Linked DNA regions of Homo sapiens: regions 1 and 2 are each linked to region 3. The links come from fine-mapping of genetic effects on gene expression. A gene starts in region 3. Each other region holds a variant in brackets. All regions are shown on one strand. Distances are from middle to middle.

Region 1 (8,186 bases), 440 kb after region 3:
AGAGAGAGAGGAGCTCCCAAGTGGGTCTTCCAGTTTCATGGTGGAATGCATGGGGTTTTACAGACAAGCTTGAAGAAGTAATGTCTGATTTATATAGGGCCTGAGAAATTGGTTGGACCAGTTGTGACATTTGCATAGCATGTGAAGAAGCTGGCCATCCCACCATAATCTTTTACTATGCAAATGGGATCTCTACCTTTCCTGGGCCATGTTGTCTTCCTTACTGTACACGTGGTTGACAAAGAAAAGGGAAGATGGAGCCATCAGGTTGAACATGCTGGCCCCCAGGTAGCCTTCTATGGGCACAGCTGCCAGTTTTCATCCGTACAAGCTTCCAACTATGTCTGCAGCTTGATTTTTAAGGCTGCTTTTAAACTCCATCTTTACTAAAAATACAAAAATTAGCTGGGCATGGTGGCATGTGCCTGTAATCCCAGCTACTCAGGGGGCTGAGGCAGGAGAATTGCTTGAACCCGGGAGGTGGAGGTTGCAGTGAGCTGAGATCACGCCACTGCACTCCAGCCTGGGCAACAAGAGTGAAACTCTGTCTCAAGAAAAAGAAATAATAATAATAACAAAATAATTTGGGGGCTACTTTTCACTAAAAGTAAAACCTTACCGAGGACTTTCTTACACTCATTATCTGCCTAAATAATTTCTTTTTAACTCCATTAACATCACCTTTTGGGTTTCTTTGTTCCTTGGGGACATGTAAACCTTCTTCTACCTCTAAACACCTTATTAGGTAGGGCTGGGGGAGGGGGAATACATTTAAGAGAGAAGAAAAAGACCTAATAAAAACTTACATAATTTGAATGTCATCCAAAAGATGAGCAGGATAGGTAAATAGCAGAAAAGAGCTTTATTGGTGATATTAGTTTGCAGGCTGGGAAGGGACAGTTTCCATTGTATATCAAAGGTACTCTGTCTTCAAAGAAGGGAAGGAGTTTGGGTTTTATGGCTCACAAGTTGGTATTAAATATATTTAGTTGGTTTGGGGGAAAAGCTGTACATATTTATGAGGGGAGTCGAACACAGGCACAGTGAGTAAACATGCATGTAACATATATCCTATGTTTACTTTGGAGCAGGGTTTTGCTTAAAATAGGGTGGAATTCTTTATGACACAAAGATCATTTGTGCACAGCCTCTATACGCTGCTGAAACTGGTTTAAAGTCTGCAATTGCTTATCAGAAAAGAATGTTTCTAAGGCTGGTCCTCTGTCCAGTTAGAATTGTAGTGACCTGGGTTGTAAGTCAGAGTTAGGACGGGTCTGATAATTCCTATTGTTAGGGAATTTAAAACCCTAAGAATGTAGAAATTTGCCTTGCCAGCTGGGCCCTGAACCCTCGACCTATAGGAACCTTGTTTTCTCAACCTTAGGGTCCATCTTAGTTGACAAAGGGTTATCTGTTTTGGTCTTTCAGATCATGTGATTTTGAGTTTATCAAAAAGAGAATGTTCAAAACTTAAAGGAACCAAGACAATTTTAGTCACATTTTAAACTCCACCTTCAATCAGCTAGAATGAGATCTTCAGCACAAGAAAATAAAGAAGCTCATACATGTAAAGAAGCTGTATACATCTGAATATCAGTCCAGAAATTCTGATATCATCACACCACAAATGAGTGAGTTCTCTGCAGGAGGATGTGTGCTAAAGAAATGTGCAGAGGTCAATAGTCAGCTAAAAAAGGAGAATGAGGAGATAATTCCAGGCAGATGGAAGAGTGACAGCAAGGCCCCTGAGAAAGGAGGGTGCAGGACATATCTATGGAGTAGAAAAAAGACCAGTGTGGCCCAGAGCACTGATGAGTATGTGCCTGTGGGTGTGTAGGGTGGAGGCAGGGAGGAGAAAGAGGCAGGGAGATGCAAAAATGCGTCTCAGAGAGCAGTTGTGGGTAAGCTTACATTTATAATTGTTTGTGATCAGACATTTTATGTTTTCTCATTACATTTTATTTAAAAAATGTATTTATACATTTAAATAGAGACAATTTCTAGTTTTCCGGATTTGTGAATTTTCAGCTGATTTGATATTTCAGCTGGCTTTTCCTGGAAATGTCCATAGCTTTTTGATTTTAACATTCATGCTGAACAAAGAAAATCAGGGTATGTCTTCAGGGTCTCTCTAAAGTTTGAACTAGGGAAGTGAACTACAGTTGCTGCATCCACTGCCCCTTAAGTGACTCCAAACATGTGTCCAGAAAGAATTGAAATGAGTCTTGCTGAGGCACACAGAGGACGTAAGTGTGTCTGAGAGGTTGCTTTCCCTTTCTCCCCACATCCACCAGCGAGTGGGATAAAGTGCTGCCAAACAACTTGAAAAATATTTGTTTTTCACTCACTGTCCCTTGGTGACCCTTGCAAATGCCAGGATGCTGGCAATTTTCTAATCTCCCACCATCTCTTGAATCACCAGTAATTGCTTCTGATGTGTTTCTTTCTGTCCTACAAGTACTTTCTGAACCAGCTTCCTGCATTTCAGGTGTTGGTGCCACAAGCTTCCCAAGGAGCTTCTCCAAGATTGACCAAGTCATGTTGATGAAAAGTTGGTCAAGGGTTCACCCACTCACTCTGTCTTCCCTACCTCTGCACATGGGCACACAAACACACTCTTATGTACGTGTGCTCACATGTATGCACTCAGACACACATGTACTTTTACACATGCACACATTACACATGCATGCGTGCATGCATGCATCCATATAACATACACACGCATACACACATGCTTGCATACGTATACACATATACATGAACACACTGGTAGAATGACTGCCTTGAAGAGAGCCGTAAAGGTCAGAAACCCTTGTTCCTATGACCGGACACACCGTAGGGGTCCTTTTAGCGAGGTTGCTTCAGGGAAGTCAGTGCTTCTTACCAAAGTTTGGCAATAGATTATGCCCAAACACAAGTAGCGGGGGAGAAATCCATGGAGACCAGCATAGAAAAGAGAGAGCTGAGGGATGGGAAGTAAAGGGCCAGCCTCCTGCCTACAGTGAGCTTGTCATGAATTAATGCTAAAAAGTCCAGCCATAGAAAGAAAGAAATGGTAATTTAAAGGGCCAGTCTGAAGGTGTTACAGAGAAAAACAGGCAGCAAGGAGTTAGCAAGGAATAGGCAGCTATGTAGACCTGAGGAAGCAGAGGAGCTGAGGTCTTAGGAAGGACCTAGGTAAGGTGTAAAGGACCTAGGCACTCCCCAGGCCTGTCTTAGGGGAACC[G/A]AGCATTCCTCAGGGTGATCTTAAGGTGGAGTTGACAGCTACTCTGGAAAAGAAGGGACATTAGCAGATATTGTAAAGTTGAACAGAGGGCTCACAGGATCTTAGTTGGTCTGAATCAAGTTTGACATTCTCCTTTTTTTGCTTTTCTCTACAGGGATTCTTTTAGCAAAAAGCATTCCATTCACAATACATATCCATTTACTACTCAGCCTTCTGTGGTCAATGGAGCCTCTACAGCTTATGAAATTGCAAAGACTGAGAAAACCCCCAAACTTAATGGTCTGCACAATAATTCCAGAATAAATGCCTACAAGAACTGAGAGTGTACACTAGCATTTCAGCCCAGAAGGAGGGATTTTAACCAGTCAGAGCACAACGACACAATTTTCCATTCATTTTTCAAGTTACCAGCCAGTCCCATTTCAGAGCAAGAAGTACAGTAATAAATAGCAAACCTAAACAGGTTTATCTGGAGATCTTAATAAATAAAAGTTGCCTGCTTCAAAATATATTAGTGCAGGGTTGGAGTTAGTTATGAGAGATTGTTTTTTTCATGAATTATAAGATGTGCATTAGAATCTTGAAACTGCTGAAAACAGCAAAGAATAACCGTGGCTTAGTGCTCAAATTCATCTGGATTCAAATCCCGGCTCTATCCTTTGTGAGATGTGTGACTTTGAAAAAATCATTTAATCTATTTATTCCTCAGTGTATTGATTTGTAAAGTGCATACAGTAATGATACTTATATCTCAGAATGGCTTTACAAGGGAAAGTCTATGTCCCTGGGTGAAGAGCAAGTCCTGCCTGTAGAGAGAGCTCATTCAAGGAATCTGGGTCCTGGCGAAAAGGCATGTCCTTACAACCAGAAGTGGGATTTGAAGGGGAGGCTCTAGGGTGAATTGGACATCAGGATTGGAATGTTCTTTTGGCTATGAGGGAAGTCAGAATGCTAGGAAAACAACCTCATGTGTTAGCTGGGTGTCCGCACATGCAAGTTAGGCTGGAAGCTGGAGGGAAAGAACACAGGAAGTACAGGTGATTCTGGGGGTCAATATTTACATTTTAAGAGACAGAATAAATTAACCACGACTGTGAGCCTCGGGTAGAAGCAAGATGAGACAATACCGAGGGGCTTTGTGTGATGAACCAGAGGGTTGGAGCACCTTGTCCCTTCTCCTTTATTGATCACCTCCAGAATTCAAGAAAGCCTTGTGAAAACAACAGGTCATCTCATCTATGCTAACGAGTTCCCAAGTCCCTGAGTCAGAGCTCTGGAGACAAAGCAGCGTATTCAGGAAGCAAAGGGTGGTGGGGAGCCTTACTTTGTAGGAAGAGACCCTTCCTCACAAGCAGAAGGTAAGAACCATAAAGATGGACAAAGATCATCCCTCACTTCTTCCCCAGAGATTCTCTTTCTAGGCTTCGACATGGACGTTCTGAAGTTTATTCACCGGAAAACATTTACACAGAGCAGAAAATCAGGAAGTTTCTAATGAGGGCCTTCATCTGCAAATCACACTGCATGCCTCCATTGAATCAACTCTGTTATTGTCCTTCAATTCTAGGATGCTCTTTAGAAAACCAAAACAAAATTAAAACCAAAACCAACCTTCCACCCACAACAAAACCTTTCTTCCAAAATGGGAGTTGGGGCGGCCTCTTTTCTGTTGCTCTAGATCATGCAAATACTTCTAATGGTAGACTGATTAGGCAGTCCTCAAACAACTCTTGATAAGGGTGATTTAAACAACTCAATCAAGTAACTTGTTCCGAACTGGCATTTTTCACAATTAATCCGAACTGAATTTGCCAGGCCAACAAATAATGATTCCCAGCTCCAATTGAAAGATGTCATATTACCTCCAGTCTATTCCTCAGAAATGTTAAACTGTTTCATTATTCTCATTTTTTTTTCACTTTCTTCTTTCTTGATTCTCAGATAATTGTTGAATCAGAGGAGTCTTAATTTCAGGAGATCCCAAGTCTCCCCAAACCACCTGCCCATGAAAAATAAAATCTAGGGATTTCCAGTTGTTTTATTAGGGGGTTAAAACACCATGGGCAAGTATTGGGAAAAACCAGTAACTACCAGAACTATCTAATGATCAACGTGAGTTGTAAAAGACATGTATTTAGGCACCCAATGCTTTGAGAAACCTTAGTAAGTATTCTAAGGAATCTGGGCTGAGATAAACTAGCTGAGGAGTGATGCTCTTCAGAAAACCAAACCAAAATTAAGAAATGGGGGAAAGGCTGAGGTGAGGGAAGAGAGAAGAAATTGAGAACAAACCATAGAACATTCTGCCCTAGGAGAGAATTTAGGCTGAAGGATGCATGACAGAAGCAAAGCCACTCGGGTATATTTATCATCCCACAGCTAAGGACTGGGCAGGGGCAGCCTTTGGGGTAGCAAGAATATAGCCGTGGCCTATGAAGTGGTCACTCTCCCCTGTCCAAGAAATTCTCCAAAAGGGACAGTTTACAAAGCTTTTGGCAGATGCTAAATCATCTGTGATGGGATGATGCTGGGAACTGTGGTCAAAAGATTCTGAGATTTGGAGCCCAAACCAGTGTTAGCTCTGCCCCTTCTCCTTGGATTCATTCATGGCTATGAATGCAGTCAAAATAGAGATTCCTCCTCTCGCATAGAAAAGAGGCTCAGAAAGCCATGAGGCCTGGACAGGGACACAGAGTGGCACAGAGGAAGGGCACCATGGGCTCTGACGCAGGCCAGTGCTCCCTCTGCAGTAGATGCACTGATGTGATGATGCTTCACTCCTCCTGCTGTCTGGGAAAGCCCTGGTGCCTGAGTACCTTTCCTGCACACAGAGCTAGCACTGCAGATGTTCTTATGCACCCATGCCTGGCCCATGCATTCCTTGTTGGGGCTTGGACACATTTGCTTTCCATGATCTCAGCCGACCATGAACTGAGCTGTTCTATTTGTTGTTCCTGCCTACTGACCATGTTTGTCCACATGCTGTCCCTTATGCCAGGTCTCCTTTCTACTCCTCAGGTTACACTTGGTTGTGTGGTTCTCTGACAGCCTTTGCCTAGACCTCAGGGTTGAAAACTTGGCAGGTGCCTCATAGTCTGAAGAATGATTAAAAAAACAGTTCACATTGTGCTCTCAAACTCTGAGCACTGGAATCAGACTGCCTGTGTTAGGTCCTAGTTCTGACACGTGAGACTCTGCAACTTAACTTTCCTGAATTGCAGTTTGCTCATCAATAAGATAAGATGATAATAATGATGCCTTTCCTTATAGTTGTACTAATTATAAATACAGCACCATGCTTGGCACACATTAAGTGAAAAAATGCTCACTGACTTATATTAAGGTTACTATTATTTATGACAGGTTCCACCTCTTTTCCTGCTTAAACTAAACTACAGAAATTAAGATCTCAAAACACTTGCAGATGCCATGTGGCCCAGGATCCATCTATAATCTTCTGGCCAACCATGTGTTTCCCGAAAAAGATTTTCTGAGGAACATACATGTCTACATCTATTTGCATTTCCCCGGAAAAGAGCCTGAAGGGATTTACTCCACTCCTAACTATTTTGCTGAGGTCAATGTAAATTTAGCTGCATCGATTCCCCCGTGAATGTGTAATTGCTGCCTGGCAGATCGACCTCCATCACATCAGCATGGTTTGGAAGGCAAGTCTGCACATCATGTGCCCACTTCCTCCACTGCTGTCTGCAATGCCCACAAAAGTGTCTTCTGCTTCCTTCTGCCAAGGGAAGGTGGCCCAGAATGCTTGCTCTTTTGAGAATAAGAATTACTGGAAGATCTTCACAGGCAATACTAGAAAAATGACTTGGTGCTGCTTTCTCTCCCCATCTGTAGCGTAAGATGTAGTCAAGTGAAAACGTTAACAAATTGCAAGAAGATAAAAGTCAATAAGCCAAATTACAATTTTCAACATCTTGAAGGACAGTTATGAAACAAAACTAAATAACTGCCTTTGTCTCCTTTGGTCTCAGAGGGAAACTGCAAAACAGAGATGATAAGCTAGTCTTAAAGTTTTCATGTAAGAAAAAGAGATCTTTGAGATGGGGAAAAAAACTCTACTTGAACCTAAGCTATAGATTTAAAGGAGCAGATATTTTGAATCAGCATAGGTAATGCTCATGCTGAGAATACCTACCTACTTGTTTTTCAGTGTGATAATATTTCTATTTATTAGCTCTCTTTTATAACAAATAAAAATATCTCACACTACCTCAATCAGCATAAATGAGATAATTTGTTCAATAATGAAAGAGGGGTGTCTCTTGAAACCCAAGGGCAGGAATGTAGTACTAGAATTGAGGCTTGCAGTTTTTCTGTATATATATTTCTTATTTATCTCCTCTGCAGACCAAGTTTCTTCACTTCCAAGTCTGCATCATTAAAAAAAAAGAAGAGTGGCCCACACTTTCTGCATTTTAAATATCAGTATTATCTAAACACAGAGGCATGACATCTCACTTAGCCTTAAATTTCAATACTCACAGATAAGCTTCCGATTGGCCCATCTTGGTTATGAGGACTCGAAACTAAAAATAAAATCCTAAGCCCTCATCGACTGAATGGATGCCCTGTGGCCAAGGGGACCCTAGAAAAACCTGAAAACTGAGTTCCTAGCTATGACAGGATGGGAGGTCAGGCACAGCTCATTATACCTCCTCCTTTTATGGTTTAGACACAAAAACTGACCAGCGTTAATGTTAAACCAGAGATCATAAGACTGACAAAACGGACTCATTGTAGCATTAAGATACCAAAATTAGAGACAAGACCTAAGGCCATGGCAGGCGAGGGTTAAGTCACTCACTCCTACACTTAAAGGATAAACTATGTTCTAACTGCCACACATTTTTTTCTTTTTTTTCTTTTTTTCCCCCTAGCAGCTAAATAAGTATTGTCCTTGAGATAGGCAATATTAAAACAATTACAACTCATC
Region 2 (8,186 bases), 220 kb after region 3:
AGATGGACAAACCCATTAGCATTTGCTTGATATGTACATCTTTTGTGTCTTTGTTTTTAACATCCTGTCTCTTTTTCTTTTCAGTGTGTCACATTAGCAACATATATAGCTGGATGTTTTTTTTAAACCCAACCAATGAGTTAATGGAAATAAAGCCAGTCAAAAAACTGTATTATGATTTCCAAAGTTTAAACTCATTCTGCCACCTTGTTTTTTCTGTCTGTCATTTTTTCTCCTGCTCCCTTTTAACTCCCCTGACTTGATCAAGTGTTCTTTGCCTAATTTTCCCCATTTTGGAGCTGTGTCCTTCAGAATCTTTAACTCCCCGACAATCCCTCCCTAACATGATATTTTTCTTCCTTCTCTTCCTAGCCTCATATTTCATTTGAGATTACCCAGGATTTCAGTTTCATACAGTTATTTGTTAACTCTTTTTTCCCCACATTTTGGATCAATGGTTATTTATACTTAACTACAAGTTTTAGTGATTCGTTTTCATTTATTTCTTATATTTCACATAATTTTTAAAATTTGTCTTCATATTTCTAGTATATACTCAGTTCTTTCAGAGATATTCTGTGAGGAGATAACATTTATGGATCCTTGCCTGTCCAGATATATCTATGTTTTACTTCCTTCTTCAATATTAGTTTGGCTGGATATAGAATTTTAGGTTCAAAATAACTTTCCTCAGAATTTTGAAGATTTGCCTGTTTATTCCTGTTTATTACTATTTTGTTTTTGGTATAAAATTCTTCCAATGAGAAATCTAATGCCAGTCTGATTTTCATTCCACTCTGGGTGAGTTTGAAAAAATCTGTGGAATTTTTTGAGGAATTTATATTTATTTATATATGTAAATAAATACATATATTTGTATCTATATCTAAATATCTGAAATATGACCATTGTGTTCTAGGTGTGTTTTTTCTTTCTAAACTGCTTAGTCTTCGGTGAGCAACTTTAATATGAATATAATCTTTTTTCAATTACGAGAATTTTTCTTTTTATTTCTTTGATTACTTCACAGTCCCCACTTCCCCCGCCAATTCTCTCTAAATGCTATTTCTGAAACTCATAGGTATAATCTTCTGGTTTCAACCCCACATGCCCCTTATTTTCCATTTTTTTCTTGTAGTTTTTCCACATGACAAACTACTGCAAAATTTAGCGACTTAAAATGACAACAATTTATTATGACTCATGATTCTGAGGCTGCCTTGGCTGTTTCTGCTCTATGTCACCTTGGCTGGGCTGCTTCAGGCACCTGCGTTCAGCTGGGAGCTCAGCTGGGGCACCAAGTTTCCCTTTCCTGTCGCTTCTTTCTCCACACAATGTCATCCTTCAGAGCCTCTCCACGTGGTCCTTTTCTCCAACAGGGTTGCCTGAATTTCCTCACAGCAGGGGAACTGGGTTTTGAGAGAGGGCATTCCAAGAGTTGAAGCCTCTGCATTAACCCTGCTAATGTTCCATTAGCCAAAGCGAGTGACATGGCCAAGCCCAAATTGGGAGGTTATTCTGCAAGGGTATAAAAGATGAGAAGTAGGTTTTGTTTTTTGTTTTTTTTTTTGAGACTAACAATGTAATAGTCGACCAAAGTTGGGGTGCTAGTGGCTCATCTTTTGAATGAAAGATTTTTACTGTCTCCTAGGAGGCTTAATTCCTACTGGAGACACTGCCCAGCTTGTCTTAGAGCCCTCATTCTCTGGTCCAGTCTTTGGGGGCTGGGTGCTCATCTTCTTAGCTGCCCTGCCTTCAGCTTCCCAATCGATCTTCCTGTTGAGTGCTTTGCAGTTCTCTTGCTCTTCTGCTGTCTTTTGTTTCTTAGACTCACAGTATCCCAGTCTTTACCTGCTTAGTTTTAGGCACCAGTGCCCTTTTTCTTAGGTGTACCCATCTTAATCTTCTGCTTTCCTTTTCTCTCCTACTGGAGACGTGATGCTGCTCTTTGAGAAATATAAATTGGGTTTTCTGCCAGAAATGTTTACCTTTATCTCTTTTTCCCTAAAAGGTGTGTCGCTAAATCTTTGTGATTTAAATAATCACGTTTAAATTACATTTAGCAAATATTTGCTGAATGGCCCAATTAATGTGGAAGAATTTCTTGGTTGGGCTTAATGAAGTCTGTTATTGCAAGCATTAGTGATGAGAGCACCCTGGGAGGTCACCTAGACTCTTAAACATTGCTTAAATCCATCAGTGGCTTCTCATGGCACTTAGGATGAAGTCCAGCTTTCTTGGTATTTCACAACTGACCTTTTCTGGTGTATAAAGTGCTTAATTCCCAGGCCCCATCTCCTGCTCTCACTGATTTCCTTTCATTTCCCACTGATCTTTATTCAGCTCTTCAAATGCGTCACTGTCTTTCAATTCTGGCCTTCTGTACATGGAATGCTTTCTACCCGGAAGGTTCTCCTCTCTTCAGTGGCTAGTTAACTCTAACACATCCTTTAGATCCAGTGTTTCTGAAACATCAGCCACGACTCCTCCACATTGCCAATGCTGGGTTCAAATCCTCTCTGACAGGCTGTAAAATCCTCCTGTTGGAGCACTTATCATACTGCATTGTAATTGCCTATGTCTTGTCTGGCTCACCCAACTGGCTATACATTCTAGGAGGTCAGAAACTGTGCTGGGTGTCCAGCCTGTAGCACATTATTGAATACCCTGTCTATTACTGTGCCTGGCACATGGAAGACATGTGGGAACTATTTTTTGAGTGAATGATTGCATTAATGTGCTTCAAATGACTTTTACAAAATTTGGAGAAAATTTTGCATTATTAGCCTACAATTAAACATCATGAGGAACCTCTGTAATGCCTTCATATACACTAGTTTCCCCTTACCCATGGTTTTGGTTTCCACAGTTTCGGTTACTCAGGGTACAGTACAATAAGATATTGAGAGAGAGAGAGAGTGCACATTCACATAACTTTTATTACAGTGTATAGTTATAATGGTTCTACTTTATTATTAGTTATTGTTGCTACTCTCTATCTGTGCCTAATTAGTAAAATAAATGTAATCATAAGTAT[G/A]TATAGGAAAAAACATAGGGTTTGGTATTATCTGCAGCTTCAGGCATCTACTGGAAGTCTTGGAATCTACCCCCCAAAGATAAAGGGGGACTACTGTACTAGGGTTTGAAAAAAATTTCCAATTGAAACAGAGTACTGTTATTAAAAGAGTTTGAAAATCCTGGCCCGGGATCATGCTTTCATTTCACAGATACGGAATGGATTCCAGTACAGGAGTGACTTACAAAGTCTCACATCCTCATGAATAGCAGAGTTGAAGCTAAGCCATCATGCTGGCTCTTCTGTGACAGAGTCTTTTTGATGGGCTGGGTAGCATCACTGCCCCATCTGATGCCCCCTTTCCTGAGATGCAGCCTTCAATATTCAGCCCTTAGCCCTCAAGGTGGTACACACGCAACCCCCATTCCTCCCTGACCCAAGCAGGAATGAAGACTGTCTCTGAAAAAGTTCTTTTATCAGTGCTATTTTTTAGGATGCCTGATCACCAAACCTTAATGGGGCTTATCCAGAAAAAGCTCAGCACGCCTACCAATTTCATGTTAGTACTTTGAAGAAGGCTTGATCTCTCTGTAGCGGATTCCAAAGCCCTTGCTTTGAGGGTATCAGTCATCTCATGAATATCCCACCACAGATAAAGAGAGGCAGGAAGCATAGTTTTTCTCATCCTGTTTTATAGTTAAGGAAACTGAGACTAGAGGGGTGATGTGAGCTGCTCAAAATAGGACACAGACAATGAAGAGAAGAACCAGGAAAGAACAAGTACACATTAGCAATCTTCCTGGGGATTGCGCTGTTGTTAACTGATCAGCTTAACAAGTACCTGATGTTCCTCTTCACAAGAGGCAAACTACAACACAAATCAGCACAATACAAAAAAGTGCGTGTTTTTTGGAGGAGGCTGTTAAATGGGCCTTCCCCATTTTTGACATGCAGTGGGAAATATTGTTGGTGCTGTGCTGGGGTGCACCACTCAGGCCCCCTTCAGGACCAAGGCACTCAGTCCCCCAGCTTCCTTCACAGCAGCATCCTTCTCTGGGGACTCCTTTGGATGGAGGGAGCTTCCTTGTTCAAGTTTATGTCTCCTCTCTGCGGACAGCCTGCAGCCAGGACTGGTGGATGAAGGTGTACAGAGACCTGTTTCCGTGGCCTTTGTGTGGGAAAAATCCAGTTTGAGAGCTCCTTGGGAGATCAGCTGAAAGATGATGCAACTGCACAGAAATATGATTCTCCCTTTGCCCAATCCTGCTCTTTCACTTCTTTTTCTAAAATTTAATTCACTTTTTAAAATTGTACATATTTATAATGTACAGCATGTTGATATGATGTATGTATACATTTTGGAATGACTAAATCAAGCAAATCAACATGTGCACACACTTATCTTTCTTTGTAGTGGAAACATTTAAATTCTACTCCACAATTTGCAAATATACAATATGTTGTGGCCAGGCAGTATGGCATACACCTATAATCCCAGCACTCTGAGAGGCTGAGGCAGAAGGATCACTTGAGCCTAGAAGTTTGAGAACAGCTTGGGCAACACAGTGAGATCCATCTCTACAAAATATGCAGTACACTGTTATTAACTATAATCACCATGTTGTACCAAAGATCTTCTGAACTTATACTTCCCATCTAACTGAAATTTTGTATCCTTTGACCCACATCTCCCCATTCTTACCTTCCTTTTTAAGAATCCAAATATAAATGAGATTATGCAGTATTTGTCTTTCTGTGGCTGGCTTATTTCACTTGGAATACTGACTTGACCTCCAGGTTTACCCATGTTGTTGCAGATGACAGGATTTCCTTCTTTTTTAAGGCCAAATTGTAATCTGTTGTGTATAATGTTGTGTATAAATTTTCTTTACCCATTTATCCATTGATGGACACTTAGGTTGATTCTATATCTTGGCTATTGTGAATAATGCTGCAGTGAACATGGGAGTGCAGTATCTTTTCTACAAACCGATTTCATTTCCTTTGATTATATACCCAAACGTGGAATTCCTGGGTCATATGGTAGTTCTATTTTTAATATTTTGAGGGACCTCTGTACTGTGTTTTCATAATGTCTGCCTTAATTTACATTCCCACCAACCATGTGCCAATATTCTCTTTTTCCCACATCCTCTTCAACATTTGTTATCTCTTGTCTTTTTGATAATAACCATTCTAACAGGTGTGAAGCGACATCTCATTGTGGTTTTATTTTGCATTTCCTTGATGTTTAGTGATGTTGAATATTTAAAAAATATACTTGGCCATTTGTATAGAAATATCTTTTCAGGTTCTTTGCCAATTTTTAAATTGGGTTTTTTGTTTTCTTGCTATTGAGTTGTTTGAGTTCTTTACGTATTTTGGATATTAACCCCTTAGTTGAGTTCCTTATGTATTTTGGATATTAACCCCTTATCAGATGTGTGATTTACAAATATTGCCTCTGTTCTATAGATAGTCTGTTCACTCTGTTGGTTGTTTCTTTTGCTGTGCAGAAGCCTTTTCATTTTATGCAATCCCATTTGATATTTTTGCTTTTGTTACCTGTGCTTTTGGGTTCATATCCAAAAAAATCTTTGCCTAGATCAAAGTTATGAAGATTTCCCTTTGTGTTTCTCCTTTACTTCCTTATGTGAGTCATTCACCAATAAATATCCATATTAAAAATCTTTAATTCAGGGTCTATTTCCTAGGAACTCAAACCCCACAGAGGTGCCAATGAGCTGGGCATTGCCCACTCCCAAAAGGGAGTTTTTCTCTATTACCAAGTCAAGAGAAGAGGAGCTTCAAACAATCATAAAGAGGACACTGGATGTTGGAGACTGTAGAGGCTGAAACCTAACTTACAATTGGAAAAAACTTACAGGTGGGAGGCTTTCTGGGGTTGTCCCAGATGGCTGTGCAAGGAGATAGGAGTGGGAATGAGCTGCAGATGTGGCTCACTGGGAAATGAGACAGACTGTGGATATGCTGAAAGGTTCTTCACCCAAAATTCTGGCCTTGAGGGGTGAGGTGACCCCTCCCTTGTGGATTGCCTATACCAGGAGCTTAAGGCTTCATTCTACTGGTGAGCTCAAAGAGGCAATATCCATGCCAGCAATCTGCAGATGGGAGATCTCACCTCTGGCATTGAGGGTCTTTGAAGAATCTCCCAAAATGCCCCCACAGGACAAAGGAGCCAATAATTGGGTGTTTGCCATGACTAAGGGAATTAAAAAACCCAGAAAAGACCAGAGATAGCACCAGGCATAAAAGACACTTTGACTTTCTTCACTTCTCTCATTGCTCTTCTCTCTTTCCCACCCTCAGAAGAACCAGTAGCAACGTGGTCCATGGGAGGAAGAATCAAAAAGCCTGTGAGAACAGTTTAGTAGAAGGCAAAACAAACAAACAAAAACCTCAAACCTTCCAAAGACTTTCCCACCATGGACTTTCTCTCTGGTCTCTAATACAGTGGTCTGGGGCGAAAAGTTTTAAATTGGATGAGAGATTTAAGTTTTGGTATTCAAATTGATTGGCCTTTTTTGCCCCTGAACATAAGGATGCTTGCTAATTCCTGAGACTGGTTGAGAAAGTGCTGGCATCTCCCTGGGATTTTATTCAGGGACAGAGATGTATTGTTTGGCTGAGCAAGTATAGAAGAGATCAGATGAAAAGGGAAAAATTTGTTTCTTCTTGCACTGTGCTAAGTCCAGCTCATTCAATAAATAGGTTACACTTAGCTTTCTTTTTTTATTAATTTCCTGCTGAGACCTTACTGAGAGCAGAAGGCAGTGTGTAAATCTTTTGATCTGTAAAGTTTTTTATTTTTATTTTTTTTTTGAGACAAAGTCTCAACTCTGTTGCCCAGGCTGGAGTTCAGTGGTAAGATCATGGCTCACTATAGCCTCGACCTCTCTGGGCTCAGGTGATCCTCTCACTTCAGCCTCCCAAGTAGCTGGGACTACAAGCATGTGCCATCACACCCAGCTAATTTTTGTATTTTTTTGCAGAGAAAAGGACCCCCTTTGTTGCCCAGGCTGGTCTTGAACTCCTGGGCTCAAGTGATATGCCTGCTTCGCCCTCCCTAAGTGCTGGGATTACAGACATGAGCTACCACACCTGGCCTGGAAGTTTTTCTTAGAGCGGTATTTTCCCAAGTGTGTTCCATATTCTGTCCAACGTTAATGAATATTAATTGAAAAGAGTTCTCTAGGGCCAAATAATCTGGGAACCACTGGGCTAAATAAAGTTCAGTGGTGTTCTTATTGCAGGCCTTCTCAGAGCTTTTAAAACAATAACATGCACTGAGATTCTAGGATAGGCTTCTCAAGAGAAACTCATTTGATAGCTAAATCATTTATCTGGTGAGTGTCTTTTAGACCCACTATTTCTGGAAACACTTAGGAATAGATAAATTTTAGGATCATTCTGTTTCCTGTACTACTAGGTTAGAGCAGTGCTTTCTGGTAACAATTGTGTTGCGGTATAATATGTTGAGACATTGCCTTAGTCAGTTTGGCCTGCTGTAATAAAAATACCATAGACTTAAATAAAGACTATTTATGTCTCACAGTGGAGACTGGGAAGTCCAAGATCAAAGTGCTGGAAGATTCTGTGTCTGGTGAGGGCTTGCTTCATGGTTCCTAGATGGCCGTCTTCTCATGGTGGCCATGTCGTCACAGGGTAGAAACAGATCTCTGGGCCATTCATCCCTTTATAAGGAAACCAGTCCCATTATGTGGGCTCCAGCATAATGACCTAATTATCTCTCAAGGGTCCCACTTCCGTATACTATCGCATTGGGGATTAGATTTCAACATATAGACTTTGGGGGGACATAAATATTAAGTCCACAATAAATATTAACTGAGAGTTTCAGCTTTGTTTATCAGCCTAGGCACTTCATGTAGCAATTTTGAGTCTGCATTTTTTTTTTTTTTGAGATGAAGTCTTGTACTGTTGCCCAGGCTGGAGTGCAGTGGCGTGATCTTAGCTCACTGCAACCTCCGCCTCCTGGGTTCAAGTGATTCTCCTGCCTCAGCCTCCTGAGAAGCTGGGATTACAGGTGCCTGCCACCATGCCTGGCTAATTTTTTTGTATTTTAGTAGAGACAGAGTTTCACTATGTTGGCCAGGCTGGTCTTGAACTCCTGACCTCAGGTGATCCG
Region 3 (8,186 bases):
CTTCTTGGACAGCTAGGCTTTTATTAACATCTATGTGTTGGTGATTTATTCTTAATCTGAAACATACACAAATATTATATGCTTGAATGAGGATTCTACACACTTAAAATGAACTTTCTCAACAGAGTATACCTTTTGGACCATGGCATATTAATAATCCTTTTCTTTAAAAAAAAGGAAAGTAAAATTTCCACTGGAAGAAATATGATTGATAACCACTGAATCCAGTGCAAAGTACCAATCTTTTCTGGGTCGTCAGATCTCAGAATAATAATGTGGTCTTCCCAGAAAATGCACAAATACACATATATTTTTAGGAAGTTGTTCATGGACCTCTTAAAACATATCCATAGATTCTAGGTTAAAAACTAAAGATAGCCACCTACTTTTAAATATTTTTTCCATCGATGGTTCCAATGCTGCCTCTTTGAGTTCTTGGCCAGTTCTCCCACGCCGGATCCCAATTCTTGTTTTGGTGGCATATTCCTGACACACATGCAAACAAAGACACGTACCACCCACATGAAAACAGAACGTTAATAAAATAAAATGCAAGATCCCTTTACACTAGAAAACTCTAGTTAAAGAAACTTGGTACTTTCTATATACCTAACTTCACTATGGAAATTTATTAGCCAACTTAAAAAACTAAATGTAAAAATAAATAAATAAATGTAGACCTTCCCTGTGCTCCACCTTTGGAAGTTAGTAATTCATTATATTATTCTTAGTTTCAATTTCAGAAAAATTGTTTCTTTCACAAACTATAGATTTACATACCTAGAATTGTTATATTTTAAATCCTAACCAAATACCAGGGTGAGAATCTGTTAGCATTTTTAAGATATGCATTCTACAAGCATTATTAGCTATATTTTGTCATCTGGGATATGGACTCAAGAACAGCATCTTTCCTTAACATGAAGCCAAGAAGAGGGAAGACTACTACTTCCATTGTGGCTCTTTTTCAACAGTGGAACAGTTAATTTAAAAGAGAAAATGTCTCCTAGCTTCTTTATATTGTCCTCATTACCTCACACTTCAAACCTTATAATCTGAATGCCAGAAGATAAATCTATTATAAAAATGGGTTTCTTTCTAACCTGACAGATATTATCAACCTCTAAATAAGAGATAATATATTTAGTAATTTATTAATAAGCTATTGGCCAACTGGTAATATCCCTGGGTTCTTAAACTTCTGACTATGTGCTCCAGGATCTCCGTTACACTATGTAACTCTCAATCCCTCACAATGTACTCTAAATTTTCTAAATGAGAAACTCCAGAAGCTGTAAGCGAAGACAGAGTTACAGAAACTCATTTTCTATTTCATATGGGATAAGGAGGGACCAGAATGATACAAACTAATGGGGAGAAAGAGCTGATTGGGGATATTATCAGGGCTAACTGACGTATAACACACTAAAGGCAGAGCAGCCATACTCTGCCAAAAAGAAAGGGCACAAATGGAAAAAGAAGCAATATAAAAACATTCAGATTATCTTTACCCTGCTAGGTGTTAACAGCCATTGATTCTTCGTGATGGAATTCTTCACAACAGGGGAGGCCTTGGTGAAAGCTGGGTGGAAAACCCTAGAAGGTAGTGTCCGGAGACACACCAGCCTTGCAGCCAACATGGTGGTGGTGCACCAGGTCTACCGAGCAGATCTGAAATGCTAGTTTAAAAAAAAGGCAAAACCAACCAAAAAAACATAAGTAAAACAACCTACTAACCAATTAAGAGAAGGACATATGAGAGTCAGAGTCAAGGAACAAACTATTTTTTAGTAGAACAGGAAATAAAGCGACCTTTTTAATTTTCAGCGATGAATTCTTTGCCCAACCATCCACTGTAATGCAAGAAACCCATCCCAGAGAACACAGCTGAAGATGGAGGAACAAACTAGGTTTAAGTCCCAGTTTGACCAATCAAAATAGATGACTGCAAAAATTATGTGTAACACAGAACGGCTGTTAATAACTGGACGTGATTACAGAGTCTGTGATGGTTTTTACAAATGTAGTTTTGGCTTAAGATTTATACCAGCATCCAGTGGGAAAATTTAAAAGAATCTACATAACTTTTGGGCAAAGGAATAGTGTCATCCAAAGAAGACATGAATAGCTCTTCAAGGTTATACTGCATTACAAAGCTAAAAGGTATTAAAAGAAGCCAACTATATGAATTTCAGCTAATCATACCAAATATTACTTTCCTTCAACATGAGATATAAAAATATTCTAAGTTAACCTATTCTATATGTCCTACTATAATGCGTAAAGGACATTTAGTCTTTCAAAGTAAACAAGTAAACTCAGTTACCAACCAGGTTTCCCTTACATTAGACTCCCTCGATGGTGTCTTCAAAAGAAAAGCATGCTAAAAACTGGATTATCTTAGCTCCAGGGCACATTATACTAGATGGGTGGTCAACCAGAAGTCAGCAGACAGTGTTTCTGTAATGCTAAGGTGAGGTGACTACAATAGGTCAGAATGAAATGACGAGTGTAAACCAACTGGGGCTACCAGCCCATCTCTGCCAATGATTTGTAGTGAATTCTAGGCAAGTGATATACTTCTGGGCCCATTTCCCCATCTGTAACATAAGGATTCCGTGTTCAGACTACAGCGTTGACCCTTAGACTACCTGCTTGAAAGTGCCCCGGATGCATCTTAAAATGTAGGCTCCTGGGTCTTTCTTTGCTCCTAATGATTCTACCCCTAGGAATAAGACCAAGAACGTGTGTTTTAACGAACACTCCAAAAGCTAAGAACTATTGCTTTAAGATACCCGAGCGTCCTCCGAGCTCTGCAACTGAACTATTAAGGGTCTTAAAATTCGGCACCCGGCCTTTGGGAAAACACCCAGCGCTTTTGGAACTTTCGTGCCATTACATCATCTCAACCTATGGCTGTCCTGTATCTTCCTCAGTACTCAGTCCACTGGTTGGGGCCGAAGAGGTCCAGCTCAGAGTGACCTCCATGTGGCGTAACAGCCCAGAGTGGGAATCCCGCTTCTGACAGGTTAGAAGTGACCTTGTGAGGAGTGTGGATCTCTAAGACTCAGATGTCGTTGCTATAAAATGGGGAAAATACTACCGACCCTAATCCAAGGGCTTATGCCTCCGTGAGCATTGATGAGTTTGGGTGCCTGGTCCCCGAGAAAGTTCACCCAGCCCGCTAGATTCAGATGAGAACCCGGCAGCAAACTTCCCTGTCAACCCACAACACCTCTGCCCCTGCCCCAGGTGCCGCTACCAGCGCAGCGGCTGTACGGCCTCGCCGCAAGGATGACTCAGCACCTTGTTGCCCGAGGACAGAAGCACAGCTACACTGAGCCCTTGCCCGCCTGACCAGGGCCTTGTGCCGCCGCCCTCTCCACCAGGTCACCCACAGGACTGCGACCCCAACGCGCAGGCCGGCCCTGACGCAGCCAGCAGCACCGCTGCTTCCAGCCCTTCCCCCCGCACCCAGCGGTCCCGTGAGGGCGGCTGTCAGGACCACCGGGGATCCCGGGCGCCCGCCGGCCAGCCGGAGCAGTACCTCGGTCCCCGGTCACCTTCGCCTCGCAGTTTCCCTTCCGGGCCCCTAGCGTCGGCCTCAAAGAGCACAGTTCCTCCGGCGCACTGCATGACGCAACATCGAAAGGACGTAAATAGTACGAGCAGCCAATCACGGGCAGGCCTCTGTCGGAAAAGCGGCCACACTGGGGGAGGCGGGGTTCCGGGTTGAGGAGGCGGGGTTCCAAATTGGTGGGGCGGGGCCAGTTGAGGATTGTTGCAGGGAACGTCATAGTCAGCGTCCATTTTGCGTGTGGGCATGGGAGTCGTCTCGGCCATCTTTGTTTTGGGCAGTGGAGCTCTGTTTTGCTTTTGTTTTAGTCGTTTCACTCGCCGCAGCTATAAGAATTATGTAAAAATTGAAAGAAAGTAATGTTAGAGTTAAAAATTATTCCGTTTATTCCGTTCCTTTTTGAAGGCCTTTTTGTCCCTTAATTTATCGTGAGATAAATATCTTTTCAAATGTGTCTGCTTCTGAGCCGAGTCATCCGGTTTCTGGGGTCTCATGCCAAATGTTAGATGGTGACATCCAGAAAAGATTTTTTCTAGATGGTTTTTTCATTGCTTTGTGACTTTCCCGCCCACATTTTCAAGTTTCACCCTAAACCTGTGTAATAGGCCTGATAACAGCCGCCTCTGCCTTGCACCCAGGATTGCTCTGAGGACTAAGATGTTTCCATTGCGCGTAATTTGATAGGTGAAGAGCTAGTTGTGGAATACGCGAGAGAGTTACTTTCTTTTTCACTCTCCCTCTATTTCAACAGATATTTACTGAATGCTCAACTTCGTACCAAGCTCTGTTCTAGAAATATATACAAATGAATCAGCCGGGCGTGGTGGCTCAAGCCTGTAATCCCAGTACTTTGGGAGGCCGCGGCGGGTGGATCACTTGAGGTTAGGAGTTCGAGACCAGCCTGGCCAACGTGGGGAAACCCTGTCTCTACTAAAAATACAAAAATTTGCCAGGCGTGATTGGTGCCTGTAATCTAAGCTACTTGGGAAGCTAAGGCAGGAGAATCACTTGAACCCAGGAGGCGGAGGTTCCAGTGAGCCCAGATCCCGCAACTGCACTCCAGCCTGGGCGATAGAGGGAGACTCAGTCTCAAAAAAAAAAGAAACCAAAAAAACAAAAACAAAAAAACAGCAAATGAATTAAACCCGTGTGTGCTACCACTATTTTAACAAAATAAAGTCCTTGCTCTGTGGCTTTACTTTCTGGTAGAGACAGAACATAGAAAAAATATAATGTGATAACTTAATACCATGAAGAAAGAGCAGATTAAAACCCTGAAAGGGTGATAAGGTGATTAACAACATGCAAAATTCATGAACCTTTATCTCCTAAGCAGTAGTTAATTGTGATTTATGATTCCTAATCATGTAAACCTTGACAAATATAAAGACTTGCCTTCTATGTGGATAATAAAAGAGTCTGGCAGCAACACAATTCTTATCTCTTTACGCTGAAAATGGCAGGAAAACACTAGAGAAATCTCACGAAACTGAACAGATCAAGCATGATCAGTTTAATTTTTATTTTGATCTATGCCCAATTTTATTAGCTAGCAAATAGGTTTTCTGTTTGGCTCCTTCAGTGATAGTCTTTTTTTCTAGAGCTTCTGTTATCAGCAAAGAGAAAGGATTTACAACACAGTACCAGAATAAAGATCTTGAAGTCAATGACTCAAGCTTTCTTCAAGATTCCTATTAAAGCTTATTCTCTCCATATTGGAAGAAAAATGTCTGATTTCATATTTTCCTTTCTCAAGTAAAGGGCTTGTATTGTTGTTTCCACAGGGGTCAAATATTTTGAAGCAGGGGAGGAATCTGGTCATATCATTGGGAAATATATGCTCTTGTGGCAGTGTAGGAAGGGAGAGGTTCCATGGACCAGGAGACCAATTAGGAATTTATTGTAGTTGTTCAACCAAAAGGCAATAAAGGCTGGAATTAAGCCAGTAGAAAGACACAGAGGGGTTTATGACAGAGATATATTGCTGAAGTGGAGTTTGCAGGATTGAATGGTCGGTCAAATATAGCTGATAAGAATGAGGAAGGCTCCCTGAGTAATCCTTCTGAACTGGGTGGATAATTTTATCATTAATTTAGCAATAGGATACAGGGAGAGATACAAGTGAGGGGAAGTAGATACATAAAACTTAGTTTGAAGTGTTTAATTGTTAAGTTCTCTGCTTCTAAGTTCTTAGAGTGTAGGATAGAGAAAAGGACAAGCCGGGAATGGTGGCACATGCATGTAGTCCCAGTTACTGGGGAGGTAGCCCAGGAGCTTAAGGCCGGCCTGGGCAACATAGGGTGATGCTGTCTTTAAAAATAAATAAGTAGGCTGTGTGTGGTGGCTCACGCCTGTAATCCCAGCACTTTGGGAGGCCGAGGCGGGTAGATCACAAGGTCAGGAGATTGAGACCATCCTGGCTAACATGGTGAAACCCCGTCTCTACTAAAAATACCAAAAAAAAAAAAAAAAAAAAAAAAAATTAGCAGAGCATGGCGGTGGGCACCTGTAGTCCCAGCTGCTCGGGAGGCTGAGGCAGGAGAATGGCATGAACCCAGGAGGTGGAGCTTGCAGTGAGCCGAGATCGTGCCACTGCATTCCAGCCTGGGCAACAGAGCGAGACTCCACTTCAAAAAAATAAAAAATAAAAAATAAAAGAATAAATAAGTAAATAAAAAGGAAAAGACATGATTCGTAAATTCCAATACTATATATATGTCACGGTTTTTATTACAGTCTGCTGATGAATTCCTTATTCTCCACTTGCTGGCTAAGTGAGATATGCTGCATTATAGTGGAGAAAACTCAGAGCCAGGACAAAAGATAAAATATTTTATTTACTTTCAGTTAAAATAAATGCTCTCACCTTGCCCTACTATGCTTTCCCATCAGAAGATGTGGTATGAATGAAACAGAGTTGGAAAGGGAGTTTGCTGGGGCTTTAACCTCTGCCCTCCCTGATGGAGTCTCCCAACAAAGGGAAGGTGCTTCTTCCTGAAAGGTTGCAGATGTTTCTGAATGTAGGGACCAATTGGCACCTGCTTCTCATGTGGTTGCTAAGTGGCAGACAACAGAGCAGGTAGGAAAGTTACAAGATCTTCCCCATCTTGGCCTTGTTTTCCCTTGGAATCCCTAAGGTCTAGATAAACACAAGAATGTGATTGTGAGCACGCACCTGCTTGTTTGCACCCTTCGAGATGCTGCTCAGTAGTGAGGCGACACTAGAAGTATGTGTGGGTGAGATGCCCAGATGGGCACCAACAGACCATTTAGTGTATGACAAGGCAGAGCCATTTGACTCTGCTTGGGTGAGAGATCAAACTGTGCCAACTTCAAAAGTTATATCCTGCCAGCCACAGAAAGACAATGAAGCCATGGGGACTACTCCCTTTAGATTTTGCTGAACGGCAGCTGCATGACAATGCAATGACTAAGAGGTAGAGTGGAAGGACAGAGAAGCTACACTTTTTCCCCTCCTGTTTAATGTAAATGTTTCTAATCCAGTTGTGGCCCAGGAGAGGAGAAAGGACTTTGAACTCCAATGTGACTGATGGTAATAAATCCTGAAACTGACAGACAAATTGTCAGACTGTTCTGAGCTTGCAAAATGGAATAAATAGGCTGTCTGCTCTAAACTGACTGGGGCCTTGAAAATGACATCGATGGCAGTTTAAAGAAAAATGTAGCTCAATTTTGCATTCACCTAACTGACAATATATACCCCTCACATATGTGCAACTAAATGCTGTAAGTGGGCCAAAGGACAAGGTCATTAGTGGGGTAGTATCTGTGGAGGGACAGATATTGGCAGAAAATTGAGACTAGTGTCATGCTTTCTGGTCAGTCTTCCAAGAGGAAACCAACACTCAGAAATTGTAGTAGCTTTTCTTAAGAAAAAGGTATTAGGTTGTTCTTGCACTGCTATAAAGAAATACCCGAGGCTGGGTATTTTATAAGAAAAGAGGTTTAATTGGCCCATGATTCTGCAGGCTATACAGGAAGCATAGTGGCATCTGATTCTGGGGAGGCTTCAGGAAGCTTCCAATCATGGCAGAAGGCAAAGAGGGGCAGGTACATCACATGGCAAAAGGAAGAGCAAGAGAGAGAGAGTTGGCGGGGAAGGGCCAAACACTTTTAAATGACCAGATCTCCTGAGAACTCACTATCTCAAGGACAGCACCAAGGGGATAGTGCTAATCCATTCAAGAGAAATCCACTCCCATGATCCAGTCACTTCTGTCCAGGCCCCTCCTCCAATAACGGGAATTATAGTTCAACATGAGATTTGGGTGGGGACAAATATACAAACTATATCAAAAACATAGCAAGGTAAATGGTAGATCTGGGTCTAGAACATGCGATGGAGGCAAAAGCTGGTGCTTGAGGGATTAAAAAAAATCTCTCTTTTAATATATAATGCATGGATATGCAGACAGCACATGTGCTAGTAAAGCTATGACATTAAGATGTCATGGGGGAGGGAATCAGGCAAAAGCATCTGAAATGAATTCCTAGGGAAGCAATAATAAAAAAAGGCTGAGGAGCACTGGCCTAGAATACAGGATTTCTGTGATTCACTCTGATATCAGGCTCATCAGAAAAATTTTTG

Alleles and levels. Positions count from the first base shown, and alleles are read on the strand shown. Sizes are in standard deviations (SD) of each study's normalised expression. Not every link is listed here.
For the expression in whole blood of the gene that starts at base 3,632 in region 3, G is the low allele of the variant in region 1 and A is the other (small effect, 0.37 SD a copy in TwinsUK).

What was found. PIP is the estimated chance that this variant, and not a neighbour inherited with it, causes the effect.
Region 1: its variant is fine-mapped to the expression of GHITM in whole blood (TwinsUK, PIP 0.95).
Region 2: its variant is fine-mapped to the expression of GHITM in breast (GTEx, PIP 0.96).

Annotation. Positions count from the first base shown.
Region 1 is chr10:83,693,214-83,701,399 of GRCh38, reverse strand. No RefSeq gene overlaps it. Among named protein-coding and RNA genes, the nearest start is that of LINC02650, 20 kb to the right of the region's middle. RefSeq lists an enhancer at 1-18. The variant G/A (reference allele first, on the strand shown) is at 3,230.
Region 2 is chr10:83,918,501-83,926,686 of GRCh38, reverse strand. No RefSeq gene overlaps it. Among named protein-coding and RNA genes, the nearest start is that of GHITM, 220 kb to the left of the region's middle. The variant G/A (reference allele first, on the strand shown) is at 3,038.
Region 3 is chr10:84,134,955-84,143,140 of GRCh38, reverse strand. It overlaps GHITM (growth hormone inducible transmembrane protein), which reads right to left and starts at 3,632. Exons shown (of 9, transcript NM_014394.3): 1 at 3,548-3,632; 2 at 1,512-1,679; 3 at 387-486. The coding sequence starts at 1,640. RefSeq lists a silencer at 3,352-3,551 and enhancers at 3,125-3,694, 3,695-4,264.